Regions from separate parts of the Homo sapiens genome. Here all the other regions are linked to region 1. Evidence: fine-mapped expression QTL. A gene starts in region 1. Each other region holds a variant in brackets. All regions are shown on one strand. Distances are between the middles of the regions.

Region 1 (7,027 bases):
TTATTCAACTATAAAAAGAAATGAAGTTATGATACATGCATACAACACAGATGAACTTTGAAAGCCACTGAATTGCATACTTTAAAATGGATCAAGTGGAAAACTTTGTTATACATATATTTTACCCGAAGAAAGGAGGAAGCCAAAACAGACTAAAAGAAAAATCAGTATGCGACAAAACCAGAAATTAAAATAAAAAAAATATTAAAATCATAAATTTGTGAAACTATTGCAAGAATACCACCCCCAAATATCATTAAGGAACCTAAGGAACATAAGAAGTAAAAGGTAGGAGAGGGATGTCAAAGCAGCAGCAGCACAAATAGATCATTTAATCCTACTTACTGTAGGATGACCATATAATTTACCATTCTAACCAGGACACTTTTGAGAGGAAAGGGGACACTATTAATAATTACACAGGGACAACAGGTGTAGGCTGGAGCTGTGCCAGGCAAAAGTGGTTATGTGGTTACTCTCTATATAAGGGCAATCAGGTCCTTAAGGTTGAGTTCACGCCCACAGCTTGGGGTCTGGCAGAAGTACAATACTCTGACAGTGTCTTCCTGAATGACTCAAGTGGTCAAAAACGCAAGATTATTTTTCATTTTTTTACAGAGAAATAAAATACAATTCATGGCCTTTACTGAAGTTTACTGATTTGTGATTCATAAAACAATTAGCGTATCATTAGATTTTATTAAGAGCTATAATTTAGTGTTCTAGGAAATTTAGAAGGCCGAATTATACTTTGAAATGCACTGGCAGGCATACTAAGGAAGTCCTGAGGTGAATCATTTTTTATAAACCTACATTTTTATATATTACATTAGAGCCCTATAAATATATGTATACACTTTTTTTTTTTTTTTTTTTTTCAGACAGAGTCTCCCTGTCACCCAGGCTGGAGTGCTGTGGTGCGATCTCAGCTCACCGCAACCTCTGCCTCCTGGGTTCAAGAGATTCTCTGCCTCAGCCTCCCAAGTAGCTGGGATTACAGGTGGGTGCCATGACGCCTAGCTAACTTTTGTATTTTTAGTAGAGACAGGGTTTTACCATGTTGGCCAGGCTGGTCTCGAACTCCTGACCTCAGGTGATCTGCCTGCCTCGATGTATATACTCTTTTATACTTACTTTTGACTAGAGACAATTGAGACTTGAAAATTAGAAAAATCAAGTTAGAATTACTGAGAAAATTAGTAGCTCTGATATTCTACCCATTCTTTATTTTTAAATTAAAATTAATCTTAATGACCTACAAATAGGTTAACTTAAACAGTCCATACCTTACATGAGAAGCTCCGACTTGGGATGTTTCTTGCTAACTCTGATATCTTGGGTTTATTCTGAAGACACTTGGTTAGGTGATATTTTTTCAATTTTATTCTATTGTAACAATGATCAGCGAAGTTATAGTGATTCAAATGCTGTTTCTGCATGCATTTTCCAAGGTGAGGAATACTATACTTCAAAGCTTGGAGAAATAATTTGGTCTTCTGCTGCATGATATCAAAGTCCCTGGTTTATGCTCCTTTTGGGGCTGCCAGCACACGAATGATTTTATAGGTATGATTACAGAGTAGTGGGTTCTCAGAGTAACTAAGATCAGCAGTTCTCATCCCTCCTTTTCAGGGCCATGCCCCACTTAGGTTATGAATAACTTCAGACAGCTGATAACTTAGGCTAACTAAATCTAAAAACCTGTGTAAGTTAAAGTTTCATTCAAATCATAATTCTTGGCAGATGTGACTTAAATGTCTCATTTGTAAAGTTAATCCTATCAGGCTCAAACTATGCAGCACTGACTCTGGCACACATAGGGGTTAAACTAAAACAAAAAACAAAACAAGAAACAAAATATAAATTTGCAAATAAGTACACAGACTTAATGGGGTATCTCAGGAACTCAGGGCTGTAAAAGGTAAAAAGCCCTTTGGTCTTACATAATTATGAACGTATCTTTGGTATATATGTGGAAGATAAACTGGAAAAGCCTAATTATTTAATAAAGGTGGGGGAGGGAAGATTAATTATTGTTGAGTGTTAACTAACTGCCAGGTGCTTTTATCTTGTTTGTCTAATTTAAATTTTATATGGACTTAATAAAGTAGATATTACCATGCACATTTTACAGGTTGCCAAACTGTGGCTGTGGGAGGTTCTAAGCAACTGTTCCAGGTCACTTGTACAGTAAGCTGTATAGCAAAAAATCCAATTTGGTTCGGTTCCAAATACTGGACATACTCAACTTCGGATTTTTAATGTTAAAAAGGTATTTAGCGCTTTAATTAAAAACAACAAAAAACCCCTGCAAGATGCACAAATAAAATGTAAGGCCATCTCTGGTTTGTCAGGAGGTAGCTTTTATTAACCTTGATTGCTAATAAGTAGTTAAGAGTCAGAGAGACCTGGGTTGAGGTCTTAGCTCCTACACTTAACTGTGTCTCCGGGCCTCAGTTTCTTCATCTGCAAAAATGAAATGACACCATTTACCTTCTAGGGTTGTTGTTGTAAAGACAAAATGAGACAGCTTAACATTAAGACCATACAGTGCCTGGCACATAGTGACCACTCAATAAATGGCAGTTGCTATTATTTACGACAGGAATAATCTAGGTATGTTGCACACCGCTGAATGTCATTATGGAAGTCTTCCACAAAATGCCCCCTGGTATCAAAGGTAGAATGCTGCGTCAAATTTACCATAGATCAGATGCGCTACGACGCCCCCGCCCCCCTTAATCCCTTTCCATGTCGCAGCAAAATAATGGGCGATTGGGGGTAGGGGAGCAACACTAGTTTACTAGCCGACACTAGTAAAAAAAGGGGAAAAAAGACCCGAATAACAAGGACCTGCAAAGGTCCTACATCACCACGTTCCCACAGCCTTTATCCATCCATCTTTCATCCCCAAGAAGACAGTATGCAAGGCTAGGATGGGGGTGGGGTAGATAAATGGGTGTTCTCAGGAGAACCTATTCGTTTACCCCGTGCAACTCTCCACCCCAGGGATGAGGCGATCTGAATGCAACAGGGAGAGGGACCAGGTGACACGCACGCAGTGCCGGGACATTAGTCAAAAAGCGAGGACCTGGGGACTGAGGGGTGGGTGGCTGGGCGGGGGGAGAAAGGGGAGAAGGAAAGAGACCAGCACACCCCCCATACATACGCAAATTGAGAGAATCAGTCCGGCTCTGGACACAAACCAGTGAAGGCAGGCCGGAGAACCTGAAGCTCTCAGAGGGGAGCAGGTGTCACCGCAGGCAAGTCCAGCCGAAGTCTGCGTTCCGCAGCCCACAGAACGACAACTTACCCAGAGCCGCCTAGAGCTGGTTTGCAGCACGCCAATCTACGTAACCTCAATCTAGCACGAGCAACAGGCAGATTTCGCCATCTTTGTTGTGGTCAAGGAGTCTTCTTGGGTTCCTGGGTTCTTTAGTCTCGAAATATATAAGACTTTTCGTTCTTCGCTAGTCTTCTGAGCTCGAGATGAAGCACAGAAGGCTAAAACAATGAGGGACAGCGTTCCAGTAGCCCTGCCACAGCTCTCTCATCCTCTGGTCCGCCCTCACTCAAGATGGCTACCAGCAAGAATGGTGCAATGGCGTGACAGCTCGGCCCTGGTTGCCAAGGAGATGCGAGTACCGGAAATGCGGAATTCGGGGAGAGCGCGCATGCCTGGTCCGGTGGAGGGAGGGTGCCGGGCGTCACAGGTCCTGACAGGGAAGAAGTTGGCAGGTCCTGGCAGGGGACGAGCTGCGGCGGTGGCACCTCCGGGTGTGGAAGGCTCCAGTGAGATGGAGTCGCGAGTCGCGGACGCTGGGACCGGCGAGACCGCGCGAGCAGCGGGCGGGAGTCCGGCAGTTGGCTGCACCACTCGGGGGCCCGTAGTCTCGGCGCCCCTGGGAGCCGCCCGGTGGAAGCTCCTGCGGCAGGTAAGGGAGAACCTGCTCGCCTCACCTTTGCCTCTGGTCACTCCTCTCTCACGTACCGGGGGAGCGACTGTTCGCAGTTCTTTCCTCTTGGCAGCTCTGGGAGACCCTTCTCAGTTTGCCGGGAGCCACCTGCGAAGCTCCCCCTCGCTTCACCTAAGCGTCCCATCCAAGAGGAGGAATCATGTGGGGTTGGGTGGGGAGCGGGACAGCCAAGGCTGAGCTCCTGGGAAACTCAGATCGAAGTAGAAGAACCCCTTCTAGACATTTTTGTGCGTCTGGGGGACTTTTCCCCTTCTCGCCAGTCTCTGGTGCGCCCGCCGCTCCCCACTGCTCTTTTCCTGCTTCTGTTTTGCCTCCTTCCCCAGTTTCTTCTAGCTTAACTCCCAGCCTGGTTCGAGTTACCGATATTCGTCTGCACCCTCTGGCCCCGTCTTTTGCCCAGCGTGGTTGACTATGCCGGGACTGAGACACGGCATGCGTTCCCTCGGCATCTTCCGTACAGCGGAGCGTGCAAGGAGTAGGAAAAGCTGATACCCTCTCTCACTGAGGTCTCAAAGTTAAATGATTATCTTGTAGTTTGTAGTGATCAGCGAGATTCTCCGTGTCCAAGGTGGGCTAGTCAAAGTGTGTTCGTTTTTGAATGATGGTATCTTCTGGTACTTCAAAGTTTCTGCTGTTACTTACAACTCCACTCGTGCAAGCTTGACGGAAGTTCTGATTTATGATCACTCACATTCTTCGCTCACTTCTTGAAGTGAAGTCTGGTTATTGTTTTTGCATAGCAGTGTTATGCCTCTGCCTGAAGTTTTCTGCCGAAAACTTTACTCAGGAGGACATTTTTCCATTTCTGACAGTTGTGTTTGGAAAAGAGTTTCCCAGCTATTGCCACTTTACTTGAGATTGTGCTTTTAGTATTTTGGGGATCACTTTGTTTGCAGTTGCCTTGAGTCACCTTTTCATACAGTGGTCTTTTAGTGCTTTTAGAGTTATGAGTTAAGTAGATCATCAGAGTTAATTAAGATTTATTTGCTGATACATTGACAGTCTTTCCAGACCAGTAATGATCTGGTTTTGCTATTGTTACAAATGGTATTACAGGATAAGAAAATGCATGTCCTCACAGATCATCATAGGAAGTATCTATAATAAAGTAAATATCTAATTTTTTTTAATAGTGACCACTGAAATGAGATCTGGCGTGAGCTGGGGAGAGTGGACTCAACCCCCCTTCCCCCCTCCTTTTTTTTTGAAATGGAGTTTCCCTCTTGTTGCCCAGGCTGGACTGCAATGGCTGCCATCTCCGCTCACCACAACCTCCGCCTCTAGGGTTCAAATGATTCTCCTTCCTCAGTCTCCCCAGTAGCTGGGATTACAGGCATGCACCACCACGCCTGGCTAATTTTTTTTTTTTTTAAGTAGAGACGGGGTTTCTCCATGTTTGTCAAGCTGGTCTCGAACTCCCCACCTCAGGTGATCCACCCACCTCGGCTTCCCAAAGTACTGGGATTACAGGCATGAGCCACCGTGCCCGGCAACCCCCTTCTTTTTTTTTTTTTTTTTTCGATACAGAGCCTTACTGTGTTGCCCAGACGTGAGTGCAATGGCGCAATCTCGGCTCACTGCAGCCTCCGCCTCCCTGGTTCAAGCAATTCTCCCGTACTCAGCCTTCCGAATAGCTGGGATTACAGGTGCTCGCCATTACGCCCAGCTAATTTTTGTGTTTTTAGTAGAGACGGAGTTTCGCCATGTTGGCCAGGCTGGTCTCAAACTCCTGACCTCAGGTGATTCACTTGCCTCGCCTCCCGAAGTGCTGGGATTACAGGTATCAGCCACCATGCCTGCCACGCCCACCGCCCCCACCCTTCCTTTTTTTTTTTTTTTTTTTTTTAAATAAGATAGAGTCTTGCTTGTTGCCCAGGCAGGTAACTCCTGGGCTCAAGCAATCCTCCCACCTCAGCCTCCTGAGTAGTTGGAATTACAGGGGTATGCCATGATACCTGGCTTTCAGTGATTCTCAGTATAGTAAAAACTACAGCACTTATGTTCATTCTAAATTGCGGTCTAAATGAAAACAGTGACAAGTTTCAGCTGTGGCTGTTACATGAAGTCCCCACACGTTCTGACATCGAAACTTTTGGTATATATCTGCCTGCTTATAGTCTTTTTATCTTCTCTACTTGGTGAATGATTGTTCATTCTTCACACTTCCATTTCAAACTACTCTTCTGTGAAGCCACCCCTAATGCCTCTGGGCTAAGTTAGACCCTCAGCCAACTCTACCAATGAGCCCTTTATATTATTTTATGATCATGTGATCAGGGTCTCTTTTTCTTACTAGAATGGGCATTCACCCTGGGAAAAGGTGATGTTTTATTAATTTACATCCTCTGCACCTAGCACAGGGCCTGGTTAATTGATTTTTAGTAGATGTTGTTCAGTGTCTGTGGAAAGCCTGAGAGTAAGGACAGTCTTTAAGTGGCGCATAGCACCTAGTCCTTAGTGTATTTTATCAGTAAGCTATTGCTAAGTAAGAACCGCAACATCACAGTGGCATACAACAGTTAGTATTTATTTTGTTGGTGCATCTGGGGGCCACCTGGGAGCTGACCGACATAGGCTGTAGTCATCTGGGTATCTCTATGATGCACATGTGGTCCATATGTCTCTAATCTTTGGACTAGTGGGCTGAAGTCCTCATGGTGATAGCAGAGGTATAAGAGCAAGCCCAACCACAGAGACACATTTTAAACCCCTGCTCACATCATGTGTTTATTTCCTATTGGCCAAAGTAAGATATTTGGCAAAGGCCAAATTCAAGGGGCAGGGAAATACAACTCCTTCCTTGGAGGTGACAAAGAGGAAGTGAATATTTTTCTATTACAATTTAATCGATCACATATATTAAACATTTACAAGCTCTTAGTAAATGTATTTCAAATGAATGAACCATTCCTATCCTATATGCATCTAGTACTGGAAAACTATAAGGAATCTAAGCAGTGCTAGAGATATGTGACTCCTTTTCTCGCTCGTGGGACATCTGAAGAACATCTGCTCTGTCTACTTGTTTTTTCCTTTAAAATTCTGTCTTT
Region 2 (7,027 bases), 74 kb before region 1:
TATCATATATATAACCATATATTGCAAGACTTCGACTCTAAAAAAATTATTTTTTAGTTTCCTCTATTTTGAACTTTATGAAAAGTGTCATGCTAGGTATAGTCTTCTTAACTAACTTTTTCATGATTTATTCATGTAACTTCAGGTAGCTATGGTTCATACATTTTCATTGTTGTATATTTCACAGTGTGAACAATCCATGGTTTACTTATCCACTCTTCAGTTGATGGGAAGTTGGGCTACTTCCGTTTTTTTTATTATGAACAATGTTACTATAAACACTGTCATTAATCTATCTTGGGGTACATGTGCAAGGGCTTCTTTTTTTTATTTTTGAGATGGTCTTGCTCTGTCGCCCAGGCTGGACTGCAGTGGCGTGATCTTGGCTCACTGCAACCTCTGCCTCCTCAGTTCAAGCGATTCTCCTGCCTCAGCCTCTCAAGTAGCTGGAACTACAGGCACCCATCACCATGCCCACCTAATTTTTGTATCTTTAGTAGAGACAGGGTTTCACCATATTGGCCAGGCTGGTCTTGAACTCCTGACCTTGTGATCTGCCCACGTCGGCTTCCCAGAGTGCTAGGATTACAGGCGTGAGCCACCACGCCCAACCAAGGGCTTCTTTTAGGTAAATAACTAGGAGTAAAATTGCTGTGCAGGATATCGCATGCTCAGCTCTACAGGATAGTGTCAAATTCATTATCAAAATGGTTGTACCAATTTATATCCCCCACAGAAGTATAAAAAATACACATTCTCATTAATTCCTGATATTGCCCAACTTTGTAATTTTTATTTAAAAATTATTATTATTTTGTGTCAGGGTCTCATTCTGTCACCCAGGCTGAAGCATAGTGGCTCAATCATAGCTTACTGCAGTCTCGAGCTCCTAGGCTCAAGCAATCCTCGCCACCTCAGCCTCCTTAGTAGCTGGGACCACAGGCACACACCATCATGTGTGGCTGAGTTTTTTTATTTTTTTGTAAATATGGGCTCTCACTATGTTGCCCAAGCTGGTCTTGAACTTCTGGCCTCAAGCAGTCCTCCCGCTTCAGCTCTCAAAGTGCTGTGATTACTGGCATGAGCTACCATGCCCAGCCCAGACTTAAAACAATATTGCCTTGAGATCTTAATTTTATATTTATTTAATTACTAATGATGATGTGTCTAATTCCTAATACAGTAATTATCTAATTCCTAATGATGTTGAACATCTTTTCTTACATTTATTCATTTAAGTGTCCATTTCTGTGAAACACCTCTTTATGGTTTCTTTCCCCTACTTTCTTTTGAATTATTTATCCCTTTGAAATTGCTTTCTTCAGTTCCTTTTGTATTCTGGATACTGATTTTTTATTGTTTATGTACACTAAAAATCTCTTGCCCTGGTTGTGTCCAGGTGGGCTGTGTGTTGAATTGGAAAGGGTGCATGTCCTTGAAAGGCAGCAGCTACTACTCAGCATCTGCCTGTGTTGCCATGGACATGTGGACTCAGTGTAACTACGTCTTCCAACTCAAAAAGATTTATGTAAAATCTCCCAGTTGTTAAATGTTTTCCAGATGTTCTCTTTAACATGAAATGGACAAAAGGCCTAGGACAGAGCCCCATGAAACTCTCACATTCAAGGGCCCACAGCGTTGACTTAAGGAGTGGCCAGAGATGTGGGAGGGCAGCCGGGAGAGTCATACCATGGGGCCATAAATGTGAGCATTTCCAGACAGAGGAGACCAGCGACATCGTCAACTATTGCTGAGTACCAACACTTGAAGTTGCTTTTTATTCTTGGAGACTGGTAGAGATTTTAAGTGAAGGATTCTAATAATTTTCTGGGGATATAATTTAAATATTCAGTCTATCTGGGCTCAAGCTCCAAGATGAGCGGAATGTTTCTTTCTTCCAAATTGACTACCATTTTGCTTCTCTTCACAAACAAGAGTTTGGATCCTGGACAGAAGATTCAAGAAAATACATTAGTAATGTCAGTTCCTTAAGTTGACCTTGTCTTGGGTTTGAGAACATTGGTTTGCTGTTGCAGTTGTTACAAACAGCATCTACTGTAAAAATACGTTGCAACCATGTTTGTGAGGCATTAGGCCAATGGGGTGGGGGGTATTTGGAAGGGGTTTCTTTAACCTGCTGCTCTCTGTAGAAGGAAAACTCTCAGGATTTACATACTCTGCCTGCAAAGGATCAGGGAGGGCAATGATCTTTATTTGTGGGCAATACCATTATAGGTCACTGATGTGCTGTTTTCTTTGTTTGCCAGTTAAGTGTGTATGGAAACTCCAGTTGGCACTTTGACGAAGTGCGAAACCAATGTTATTTTCATCAGTTTATGAAAGAGCAACCTGATTTAAATTTCCGCAATCCTGATGTTCAAGAAGAAATAAAAGTGAGTATAGATACCCACACAGACTTCTCCATTAATGGAGGTTTAGGTATTTATTTAAAACACTTTATATTGCACAGTAATTGTGTAGGCAAAATCAAGTCTTTAATTATTTGAAATACTCTATAGTTATTTGAAACACTTTATATTGCACAATAATTGTGTAGGCAATAATCAAGCCTGAATTAAATCCCAGGATTAAGCTCTCTGGTGCAAATGTAGACTCTCAGACATGTCTGTGACTCCTTCCTTCATCTAACTCAGAGTACCCTAAATGGAAGGAGTCAGAAACACCTGCCACCCTAGCTCCAAGTTGCCCCGCCACCTGTGACAGTGAGCTGTACGGTGCCTGTGACGGTGAGCTGTGCGGTGCCTGTGACGGTGAGCTGTGCGGTGCCTGTGACGGTGAGCTGTGCGGTGCCTGTGACGGTGAGCTGTGCGGTGTCTGTGACGGTGAGCTGTGCGGTGTCTGTGACTGAGCTGTGCACTGTCTGTGACGGTGAGCTGTGCGGTGTCTGTGACGGTGAGCTGTGCGGTGCCTGTGACTGAGCTGTGCGGTGTCTGTGACTGAGCTGTGCAGTGCCTGTGACTGAGCTGTGCGGTGTCTGTGACGGTGAGCTGTGCGGTGCCTGTGACGGTGAGCTGTGCGGTGCCTGTGACGGTGAGCTGTGCGGTGCCTGTGATGGTGAGCTGTGCGGTGTCTGTGACAGTGAGCTGCTGCAGGGAGGTGGGTCATTTGGGGTCTGGCTCCTGCATCTAAAATGGGCTTCTTGATGGTTATTTGGCTTTCATGTCTTAGCTGTCTCATCTATGAAACACAGTTGGTGGCAATATTTGTCTCATAGGGCTGTTTGGAAGATTAGATGAGATAACACATGCACGACACTTCTGTACTCATTGAGTAAATATTAACATATTGCCTACTCCGTGCCAGGCCCTGTTCTAAGCACTGGGAATGCAGCAGTGAATAAAAGAAGCCTTACCCTCAAGGAGTCTCCAATATACTGAGGGGAAAGCAGGCAATTAGCCACTAAATATATATATGTTAGGTGGTGGTGAATGCCAAGGGGAAGGGGCATCGGAGTGTCAGGTAGAAGTGGCTCTTCTATATAAAGTGTGTAGGAGACACCTTCTTATGATGAGATGCTGTTTGGACAAAAACCTGAAGTGAGAAAGGAACCATGTGACTATCTGGGGGAAGAGAATTTCGGGCAGAAAGAAGAACAAATGGAAAGGTCCCGAGGTGAGAGTGTGGTTCATGTGTTTCAGGGATGGCATGGAGGCCAGAGTGTAGGGTTGCCAAACTTAGCAAAGAAAAATACAGGATGTCCAGTTAAATTTTAAATGAATGATGCAACATTTGAGACATACTGCTACCAAAAAATTGTTCATTGATTACCTGAAATTGAAATGTAATTGAGTGTCTTGTATTTTATCTGGCAACCCTACCAGTATGCTGGAGTGAAATGGGTTAGGGCGCTGAAGTAAGAGGTGGGGGCTGATCATTTCTCACAATACAATTCACAAAACATATCAGCTATGTTCTTGTTCTTGTTCTTGCTGCTCCTATGGCTACAGTGGGCAGAAACTTAGGGGAGTAGGGGAGTCCTCTGAGCCAAGTAGGTGGGAAGGAGACCCTAACAGAACGGGGAGCATTGGGTGCCTTTCCACAGCTCACCACGTCAGCCAGATAGAGTGGATGCAAGCTGTCATGCTGGAGTCACTAGGGGCACCTAGAACCCTTGGTTTAGTTTAATTTTGAAATAACAGTTTAATTGACATATAATTCAC[A/G]TACCATAAAATTCACCCCTTTTGAGTGTGTAATTCAGTGGTTTTAGTATCTTCACAGAGTTTCACAATCACTACTAATTTCTGAACTTTTTTTTTTTTTTTGAGACAGTCTTGCTCTGTCGCCCAGGCTGGAGTGTAGTGGCATGATCTTGGCTCACTGCAACTTGTGCCTCCCAGGTTCAAGCGATTCTCCTGCCTCAGCCTCCGAGTAGCTGGGACTACAGGCATGTACCACCATGCCCGGCTAATTTTTGTATTTTTGTAGAGACAGGGTTTTGCCATGTTGGCCAGGCTGGTCTCAAACTCCTGGCCTCAAATGATCCACCCGTCTCAGCTTCCCAAAATGCTGGGATTACAGGTATGAGCCACTGCACCTGGCCTAATTTCAGAACACTTTTATCTTCTCAAAAAGAAACCCCATATCCATCAACAGTCACTCCTTATGGCCCCCTCCCTTTCTTCCCCCACCCCCTGGGAAACCACAAATCTACTTTCTATCTTTTTACCCACCTAAGCCTCAGTTAGATAGGTTTTGCCTATTCTGGACACTTTGTACAACAGAATCATGCTGTATCTGTATATCCCTGGTAGGTGTCTGTATCTGTGTTTATTTGAGAAACTGCCAAGTTGTTTTTCAAAGCAGCTGCATAATTTTACATTTCCATTAACAATGGGTAAGCGTTCTAATTTCTCCACATTCTCACCAACACTTGTTATTGCATATATTTTTTATTACAGTCACCCTAGTGGGTATGAAGTGGCATCTCACTGGTTGTATTTGCCAAATGGCTAAAGACGTTGAACATCTTTTTATGTGCTTATAGTTCATTTGTATATCTGCATTGTAGAAATGTCTATTTAAATCCTTTGCCCATTTTTATTTCATTTTTATTTATTTATTTTTTTTGAGATAGAGTTTCACTCTGTCACCCAGGCTGGAGTGCAGTGGTGCAGTCTCGGCTCACTGCAACCCCAGTCTCCCAGGCTCAAGTGATTCTTGCGCCTCAGCTTCCTGAGTACCTGGGACTATAGGCACGTGCCACCATGCCCAACTAATTTTTGTATTTTTTGTAGAGATGGGGTTTCTCCATGTTGGCCAGGCTGGTCTCGAGCTCCTGGTCTCAAGCAATCCTCCCTCCTTGGCCTCCCACAGTGCTGGGATTACAGGTGTGAGCCACCGCACCTGGCCCTTTGCCCATTGTTAAACAGGGTTGTCTTTTTATTATTGGGTTGTAAAAGTTCTTACATATTCTTTTTCTTTTTCTTTTTTTCTTTTTTTTTTTGAGACAGGGTCTCACTCTGTTACCCAGGCTGGAGTGCAGTGGCGTGATCTCGGCTCACTGCAACCTCCACCTCCTGGGTTCAAGTGACTCTCCTACCTCAGCCACCCAAGTAGCTGAGATTACAGGTGCGCATCACCATACCTGGCAAATTTTTGTATTTTTAGTAGAGACGGGGTTTCACCATGTTGGCCAGGCTGGTCTCGAACTCGTGGTCTCAAGCAATCCTCCTGCCTCAGCCTCCCAAAGTGCTGGGATTATAGGCATGAGCCACCACACCTGGCCTCTTTTCATATTCTTGATACATGATTTACAAATAATTTTTCCTATTCTGTTGGTTGTCTTTTTACTTTCTTGATGGTGCCTTTTGAAGCACAAGCGTTTTTAATTTTGATGATGTCCTATTTATTTATTTGTTTTTTGAGACAGAGTTATGCTCTTGTTACCCAGGCTGGGGTGCAGTGGCGCAATCTCAGCTCACTGCAACCTCCGCCTCCTGGGTTCAAGTGATTTTCCTGCTGCAGCCTCCTGAGTAGCTGGGATTATAGGTGCGCACCACCATGCCCAGCTAATTTTTTGTATTTTTAGTAGAGACGCGTTTTATCATGTTGGCTAGGCTGGTCTCGAACTCCTGACCTCAGGTGATCCACCCGCCTCGGCCTCCCAAAGTGCAGGGATTACAGGCATGAGCCACTGCGCCTGGCCCAATTTATTTATTTTTTTCTTTTGTTGCTTGTGCCTTTAGTGTCGTATCTAAGAACCATTGCTTAATCCAAGGTCATGAAGATTTACTCCTATGTTTTCTTCTCAGTTTCACAGTTTTAGTCTTACATTTTAGATTGTCTGTGATCCATTTTTTGTTAATTTTTATATAGGGTGTGAAGGTAAGCTGTCCGACTTTTTTTTTTTTTTTTTGCATGTGGCTATTCAGTTATTCCAATCACGTATGTTTAAAAATACTATTCTTTCCCTACTGAATTGTCTGGCAACTTTTGTTGAAAATCAATTGACCATAAATGCATGGGTTTATTTCTGGACTCTCAGTTCTGTTCCATTCATCTATATGTCTGTCCTTATGTCAGTACCACACACTGTCTGAATTACTAGCGCTTTGTAGTAAGTTTTGAAATCGGGAAGTGAGAATCCTACAACTTTGTTCTTTTTCAGTATTGTTTCACTATTCCAAGTCCTTTGGATTTCCATGTGAATTTCTGAGTCAGCTTGACAATGTTTGCAAAGAAGCCTGCTGTGGTTTTGATAGGGATTGCATTGAATCTGTGGTTCACTCTGGGGAACATAGCCATCTTATGTTAAGTCTTCCAATTCATGAACATGAGATGTCTTTCCATTTATTTACGTGTTCTTTCATTTCTTTCAACAATGTTTTGCAGTTCTCAGAGTACATGTCTTGTACTTCTTTCGTTAAATGTATTCCTATAGACTACTTATTTTTAAGACTTTTTTTTTTTTTACTGTATATGTTTGGTGTTTCCAGAATTTGTATGAATTGTTTTGGAATTGGTTCTGGAAGTAAGCACCATGAGTGAGGGCACCTTGCCTCCATGG
Region 3 (7,027 bases), 40 kb before region 1:
GATACATTAAAAACAAAAGAACATATAGTGCCTGTCTCTGAGGGGAACTGTGAAGCTATGGAAAGGTGTTGAAGAAAACCTTTTTATAGTATGTATTCTTGTAATTGAATAAAAAATAAAATTACAAAAATCAGGCTTGGAAGTATTTAATAGCAGACAAAATATAGTTCAATATGAAAAGCATTATATGAGACAAAGGCAATTTTCAAAAATTGATAAAACATTCCACCAAAAATCATGACTACGCATCTAACAGCTTCAAAATATAGAAAATACTCAAATGCAAAATCAACAAATCTGCAATTACAGAAAAAGACTTCAACATACTTTTAGAAAGTAGTAACTCAAGTAGACAATAATAGCTAACACTTACCGGGCACTTCTTATGTGAGTGGCACTGAAACATGTGCTTTCATGCATTACCTAAGGCTAGAGAAAATGTTAATAACTTAGACAAGTCATACATGTATCATAAATATCTTTGTACCTGACAAACAGAATAAACATCTTTTTAAACACCATTAGATAATTATTTAAAGACCACATATTGGGAACCTACCCCTAAAGAACAATAACAACCACAATAACAACTATCACCCCAGTAAACATGGCTGGCAAGAATACAATTAAATGAACATTATCACTGATTTGGCAACAGCTCTTATGAAGAATAATTTGGCATTATGTATCAAGTGCCCATACTCTTTGACAAAGTAACTGTCTTTCTGATAATCTATCTTAAGTAATACAAAAATGGGGGGAGGGGAATAAAAATACAAAATATTAGAAACACTATCGTCAAAATGAAAGGGCATGGCTGAGTATGGTACAACCGTTCAACAGAATATTGTCATTAAAAACATTTATGGAGGCTATATTATATAGTCAATAACAGAAAATGCTTGAAAGGTTAGAAGTACATCATCAAATTATGTTTTATATAGCTGTAAAATAAACCCAAATCATCTTTAATGAACACATACTATTATGGTAAAAAAAAGTCTACAATTTCTAACTTTCACCTTAGGCAGCTTTTTATTTTGCATCCTTTTTTTCAACTTTGTCTTCTATTAGCTGTGCAAGAAATACATGTCTGCTAAAGTTACACGATCTTCGCACAACAGCAACCTACACATTAGTCTACAAAGGGGAACAAACCCAAATTCCTCAGAAGTCTGAGTCCACTGTTGCCTTCTTTCTGGCCATCTGGCAGTTACAATATAGCACAGAATGACTATGCAAGTTAAATATTCATCTTAGACATGGACATTTGCTTTGGGACTCCTAAAGTGGAGTCAAATTTGATCTCTACAGAAACTCTACAATGTAGCAGAGCACTGTGCGTACTTATTGACTCCCAGACAAGCCGAAACCCCGAATTTGTCATTTCTATCAGTTTTTATATAAATTGTTCTTACCTACTTATTGATGCTTACAATTTGGCAATTATAAGGGGCAAAATTGGAGCAAGTGTTTTGGGTAAATAACTCCTTACAATATATTAAAAATACTTACAAACAATTCTTAGAATCAAACACTTACGTAAATACTTTTTTAAAAAAATAGGTCCAAAAGACTCAGCCCAGATCGGCTTTGAAGTTATATCAAGATTTAAGTCTACTTCATGCCAATGAGCTACTCCTCAACAGGGGCTGGTTTTGCCATTTGAGGAATGACAGCCACTATGTTGTGTACACAAGAGAGCTGGATGGCATCGACAGAATCTTTATCGTGGTTCTGAATTTTGGAGAATCAACACTGTTAAATCTACATAATATGATTTCGGGCCTTCCCGCTAAAATGAGAATAAGGTTAAGTACCAATTCTGCCGACAAAGGCAGTAAAGTTGATACAAGTGGCATTTTTCTGGACAAGGGAGAGGGACTCATCTTTGAACACAACACGAAGAATCTCCTTCATCGCCAAACAGCTTTCAGAGATAGATGCTTTGTTTCCAATCGAGCATGCTATTCCAGTGTACTGAACATACTGTATACCTCGTGTTAGGCACCTTTATGAAGAGATGAAGACACTGGCATTTCAGTGGGATTGTAAGCATTTGTAATAGCTTCATGTACAGCATGCTGCTTGGTGAACAATCATTAATTCTTCGATATTTCTGTAGCTTGAATGTAACTGCTTTAAGAAAGGTTCTCAAATGTTTTGAAAAAAATAAAATGTTTAAAAGTAAATTATGGCTTATAGGAGCTTATAACTTTATTCAGATAGCATCAATCAGGGATGACCAGAACACATTAGGACCCCAGATTATTCAAAAACTTTAACGAATTTTAAGGGGAAGAATTTTATCTTTTCCCTTAAAATGCAGTCATAGAAATTAGAGGATGACTCACTGCCACAGTGTCTAAAAGCATTTGCTAGCAAAGAGGCAGGACACTAATTTGTAAACTGCTCAACTGTTCTGACTGGAAGGGAGGCCTGGAGCTCTGCTATCACCAATCCTTCCCTTCCCTCTACTCCACATCCTTCTAAGGAGCATGATTTGAAAA[T/C]TACTTTCCTAGGTTAATGGGCATGTGCATCAATGGAGAGAATAGTATAAGCAAGTGAGATGTAGACTAAGCAAAATTTAGATGGAGAAGCACATTTTAAAAAATTAATAACTTAAAAGTCTCAAGTTATTAATTTTTTTTTTGCTAACTCAATTGGAAGTAAGACTATGAAATATTTCAGTGTGTTTCCAATTCCCAGTTGAATGCAGTGTTTCAGAATTTCAGGTATTTCTTAAGATCCTCGAAAACACTGGTGCTGTCAAGTCCAAGTTCCTCGTACAGGAATTTAATTTGGGCTGTAATCTAAAAGAAACACATTAAAAAAATTAAATAGAAGGCCTTTGTAGTAAAATGCCACTGTTTAAGCTTCTCTTTATCTATCCATCTTTACCTAACCGTGAAGTCAGCAATTTATGGCAAGAATACTTTCATTCGAGAGAGAGGCAGAAGGCTTCCAACAATTAAGATTAAATTATTTTCTTTAACAGAGCTCACGTATCAAGTACAAGAGAGAGACATTTCTCTTGATTGACACAGTGTCCCTCCCTCCCCTCCTGGGTCTCACCCATAGATAGGACATTTGTGAAGTGGCTTTGTCATAAACCTGCTGCAACCACTGAAAATGTGAAAACAACATGTATCTAGTTCGGGAATCTGTCCACTGAGAGGGCCTTGATAACATACCTTTTTGTGAGAATCCTCAATTACATGATTGCCTCCAGGCTGAATATCTAGAATAATATTAGGGGTCTGATAGCCTGGAAGAGTTAACATGTAGAACAATTAGAAGATTGTATGGGATCTTCTTTGGAAGATCGAGACCCATTCCTCCCCTCTTCTTTGAGTACTCAGTTCAAATAATAGTAAAGGAATAAAAAGCAAAAACCACCATCATCAACAAAAAGATGGGAGGGGACAAGCAACAGAAGACAAACTTCTGACACAGCGAAAGCAGGAAGAGGCCGTATGGAAAAGACTATATGGTGCCACACGGACAAGGTTGAAACCCAGGAGATCATCAACCTGCCCTGTGGAATCTGAGAGTCTTATGCCCTGGAAACACCAACTACAGCAATGGATGGGGGTGACAAATGGAGATGAATACAGGGAGACTGATATGGCATGTAGTTTCAAGGCAAAAGGGAGGGATTCTTATCTCATAAAGCTGAAACAGCTAGCTAGAGGAAATTCATGCAGCTAAACAGTTTGGGCACTGATGGCCCAAAACAAAAATCTCAGAATCTGTCTTTTAGAGATTCCCAAGAATAACGGCTCAATAAATATTGTTAAATGAATTAATAATTGTATGGCAGTGCATCTCCAAGTTATATCTGATTCTTAAATTTCCTGTTTCCTTTGTGTCCTGCCTATCTATTTTAATACTGTCCTTTGAAAAAGAGGTGAGGCAGTGTATGTATAGACATGTAGTTACGTACACTTTAACTGGGGAGTCAACATAGCAAAATAATTGTTTGCCCTAAATCCTGGGCAGATGATTTGGCTACAGCCTGAAATATATTCCTCTGAGCAGTGTGCTGTGGGTAGTAGTCTGTTTGGCCATGTTCCCTGCTTCTAGGGGGTCTCCTACCTTCACCTGTGTCCTTAGCATGCTCCGCGATGGCTTCCTTGAGTTTCTCAGTATAACTTACAATTCCTTTCAGAGGTACCCGTTCATCGTTTTCATATGCCGTTATGTGAATTGAAGGATAATGCTGAAAGAAAATACATGCACGAAGAGTTTACATTATTTCTTATGGTCCCTTGCCACTATAGAGACTATGAAAAATAATTACCTCCAATTTTTCCCTGTAAGTGCTCTATGCTTTTTCTCACTTGCTATCTTGAGAGCGCCTCAGTATTACAGTAGTAGACTACTTGTTATCTGGAATAGCCTTTTCTTGACTAAAGGACCTTAGCTAATTTAGTAATTAAGGCATGATAAGTCTATTCCCCTGAGGTATTAAACATGGAGCATGAGCAGAGATGGTGCTGAAGATATTTGGGCATCATAAGTAGAAACATCTCTAAAGCTCCTATTTTTGCTTCAGCTTGGATAAGTTTTTTTTTTATTATCTTCTGTGTAAATTCAGGATAATCTAACACAATTGTCTTTCACTACCTGAGGTTTAATATTTTGATAGGGACAGTAACGTTTTATGTAGTTCTTGTGTTTTTCATCAGATGAAGGATTCCCCCATTCTTCTAATTCTTCTAATGTCAGAGGAAGTGTAGTGTCCATCATGGTGTTGAGAACATCCAAGAAAGGTGCCTAAAAAAAAGGCAAAGAAACTTATACTTCAAGTAAGAGGTTGGTAAGTGAGTTTCAGAAAAACATTCTATTTTATGAATATACATACTAATATGAGAGAAAATAACTCAAGCCATGTAGATTCCTAGGAGCTAGAATACTCAGTCCTTAACCAGGGCCTGTAATTTATAACCTACTTTTAAAGTCTTCAGATTCCTTAAATGACATATAACAAGAAATGGTTTATCTTCTAATTTCACAATATTTATTTTTAGCTTAGTACCTTTTATTCATTTATATTTTTTCTTATATAAAAGCAATAAATGCTACTGTCTCATACCAATTAGGACAGTTAGTTATTATATTAAAACAACAACAACAACAACAAGTATTGGCAGTAATGTGGAGAAACCGGAATCCTGATACACTGGTGGTTGGAATGTAAAATGGGGGAGCTGCTTTGGAAAACAGTATGGTGGTTCATCAAAGAGTTAAGCTTAAGATTACCATATGATCCAGCAATTCCACTCCTGGCATATAATCCCCAAAACTGAAAGCAGGGTCTTAAAGAGATCTGCATACCTATGTTCACAGCAGCATATTCACAACAGCCAAAAGGTGGAAGCAACTCAAGTGTCCATTAACCAAAGAACGAATAAGCAAAATGTGGTATACACATGCAATATTACATGGAATATTATTCAGCCTTAAAAATGAATAAAATTCTGATCCACGCTACAATATGGATGAACCTCAAGGATATAATCTAAGTGAAATAAGCCAGTCACAAAAAATTTTGTATGACTCCACCTATGTGAGGTGTTTGAGTAGTCAAATTCACAGAGACAGAGGCTGTGGGAAGAAGCAAATGGAGAGCTGTTTAATCGGTACAGGGTTTCAGTTTTGTTAAGATGAAAAACGAGTTCTGGAGATTGACTGCATAAGCCTATGAGTGCACTTACCACTACTGAACTATTCACTTAAAAATGGTTGAGATGGTAAATTTTATGGTATTTTACCATAATTAAAAATTTTTAAATGAAAAAAATACACAAGGAATAAAGTCTTTTTGACCAGTTGGACATTTTATATTAAAAGCAAAAAACGCTAAGTAAAGAAACTCTGCAAAATACCCAAGGTGAAAGAAGAGAAAACAACCCATTGGCTTATAATTAGTGTTACAAAATTTAATAAAACGAAGGCTGGGTCGCACATGGTGGCTCATGCCTGTAATCCCAGCACATTGGGAGGCTGAGGTGGGCAAATCACTTGAGCCCAGGAGTTTGAAACTAGCCTGGGTAGCATGGTAAAACCACATCTCTACAAAACAACAACAAACCACAAAAATTAGCAGGGCATGGTGGCACATGCCTGTAGTCCCAGATACTCAGGAGGCTGAGGTGGGAGGATCACCTGAGCCCCAGAGGTCGAGGCTGTAGTGAGCTGTGTTCGTGTGCCATTGCATTCCAGCCTGGGTGAAAGAGCAAAACTCTGACTCAAAAAACAAAACAAAACAAAACAAAAAAACAAAAACCCCACAAAAACAACAAAACAAAAATGAAGGCTGTATTTTTCACTTAGCTTTATTTTCTTCTGTTAACATACTTTTTAGCTTTCCCTCATATTAACATTAACCAAGTATAGTGAGTCATCTGTAATTCTTTTTGGCTGCCTACCATATGAACTTTTTTGCATTTGAAAAACCTCCAACCTTATCAGCTAGAGCCTGCCTCTCACTGTGGAGATACTAAGTGCTAGACTTCTCTTTCCCATTTTTCCCTGCAGCTTGGGAGTAGCTGTGTGACCCATGTGTGACTTGGGTCTATCAACCAGACACATGTGCTTTACACTCTGCATGGAAAGTTAGTGATTCAAAGAAGCAGTGATCACAGATAATTTATTCTGGCAAAAGTGCCACAGCTATATCCAGCTCTAGAAGTTGCACTGGCAGTGTGAGGTGATTTGTGCTTGGCAGTGGCGGCAGTAATAGTTTCATTGGGCCAATTCTATGCCTTTGGCTCTGAAGCCTCTAACACTGGTCTGAAGACACCTACATTTTCCTAATGCCCTTTAATCCCTTTTCTGCTTAAATTAGGGTTGATTTTTGGTGCTTATAAGAAGAATTTGACTTATACATGTATAAAAGGTTGTCTCCTAGTCTTCACTATAATAAGCAACCTAGCATAAATATCCTTCTCATCATTTCCTTTTAAATTTCTAAAAGTCAAAATCTAGTTGCTTTGTCTTTAAACTGTAAATAATTCTGCCA

What was found. PIP is the estimated chance that this variant, and not a neighbour inherited with it, causes the effect. A credible set is the group of variants that fine-mapping cannot tell apart.
Region 2: its variant is the best candidate, but not a certain one, in a credible set for the expression of PREPL in blood mononuclear cells (TOPMed, PIP 0.77).
Region 3: its variant is the best candidate, but not a certain one, in a credible set for the expression of PREPL in whole blood (TOPMed, PIP 0.89).

Annotation. Positions count from the first base shown.
Region 1 is chr2:44,358,211-44,365,237 of GRCh38, forward strand. It overlaps PREPL (prolyl endopeptidase like), which reads right to left and starts at 3,284. Exons shown (of 14, transcript NM_001171613.2): 1 at 3,170-3,284. CAMKMT (calmodulin-lysine N-methyltransferase) reads left to right here and starts at 3,737. Exons shown (of 11, transcript NM_024766.5): 1 at 3,737-3,935. The coding sequence starts at 3,798. RefSeq lists enhancers at 2,656-3,550, 2,927-4,126, 3,363-3,832, 3,551-4,444.
Region 2 is chr2:44,283,765-44,290,791 of GRCh38, forward strand. It overlaps SLC3A1 (solute carrier family 3 member 1), which reads left to right. Exons shown (of 10, transcript NM_000341.4): 4 at 2,268-2,393. Among named protein-coding and RNA genes, the nearest start is that of SLC3A1, 12 kb to the left of the region's middle. RefSeq lists an enhancer at 2,920-3,475. The variant A/G (reference allele first, on the strand shown) is at 4,182.
Region 3 is chr2:44,318,633-44,325,659 of GRCh38, forward strand. It overlaps SLC3A1 (solute carrier family 3 member 1), which reads left to right. Exons shown (of 10, transcript NM_000341.4): 10 at 1,567-2,862. The coding sequence ends at 2,007. It overlaps PREPL (prolyl endopeptidase like), which reads right to left. Exons shown (of 14, transcript NM_001171613.2): 11 at 4,630-4,779; 12 at 4,099-4,222; 13 at 3,195-3,268; 14 at 1-2,813. The coding sequence ends at 2,724. Among named protein-coding and RNA genes, the nearest start is that of PREPL, 39 kb to the right of the region's middle. The variant T/C (reference allele first, on the strand shown) is at 2,511.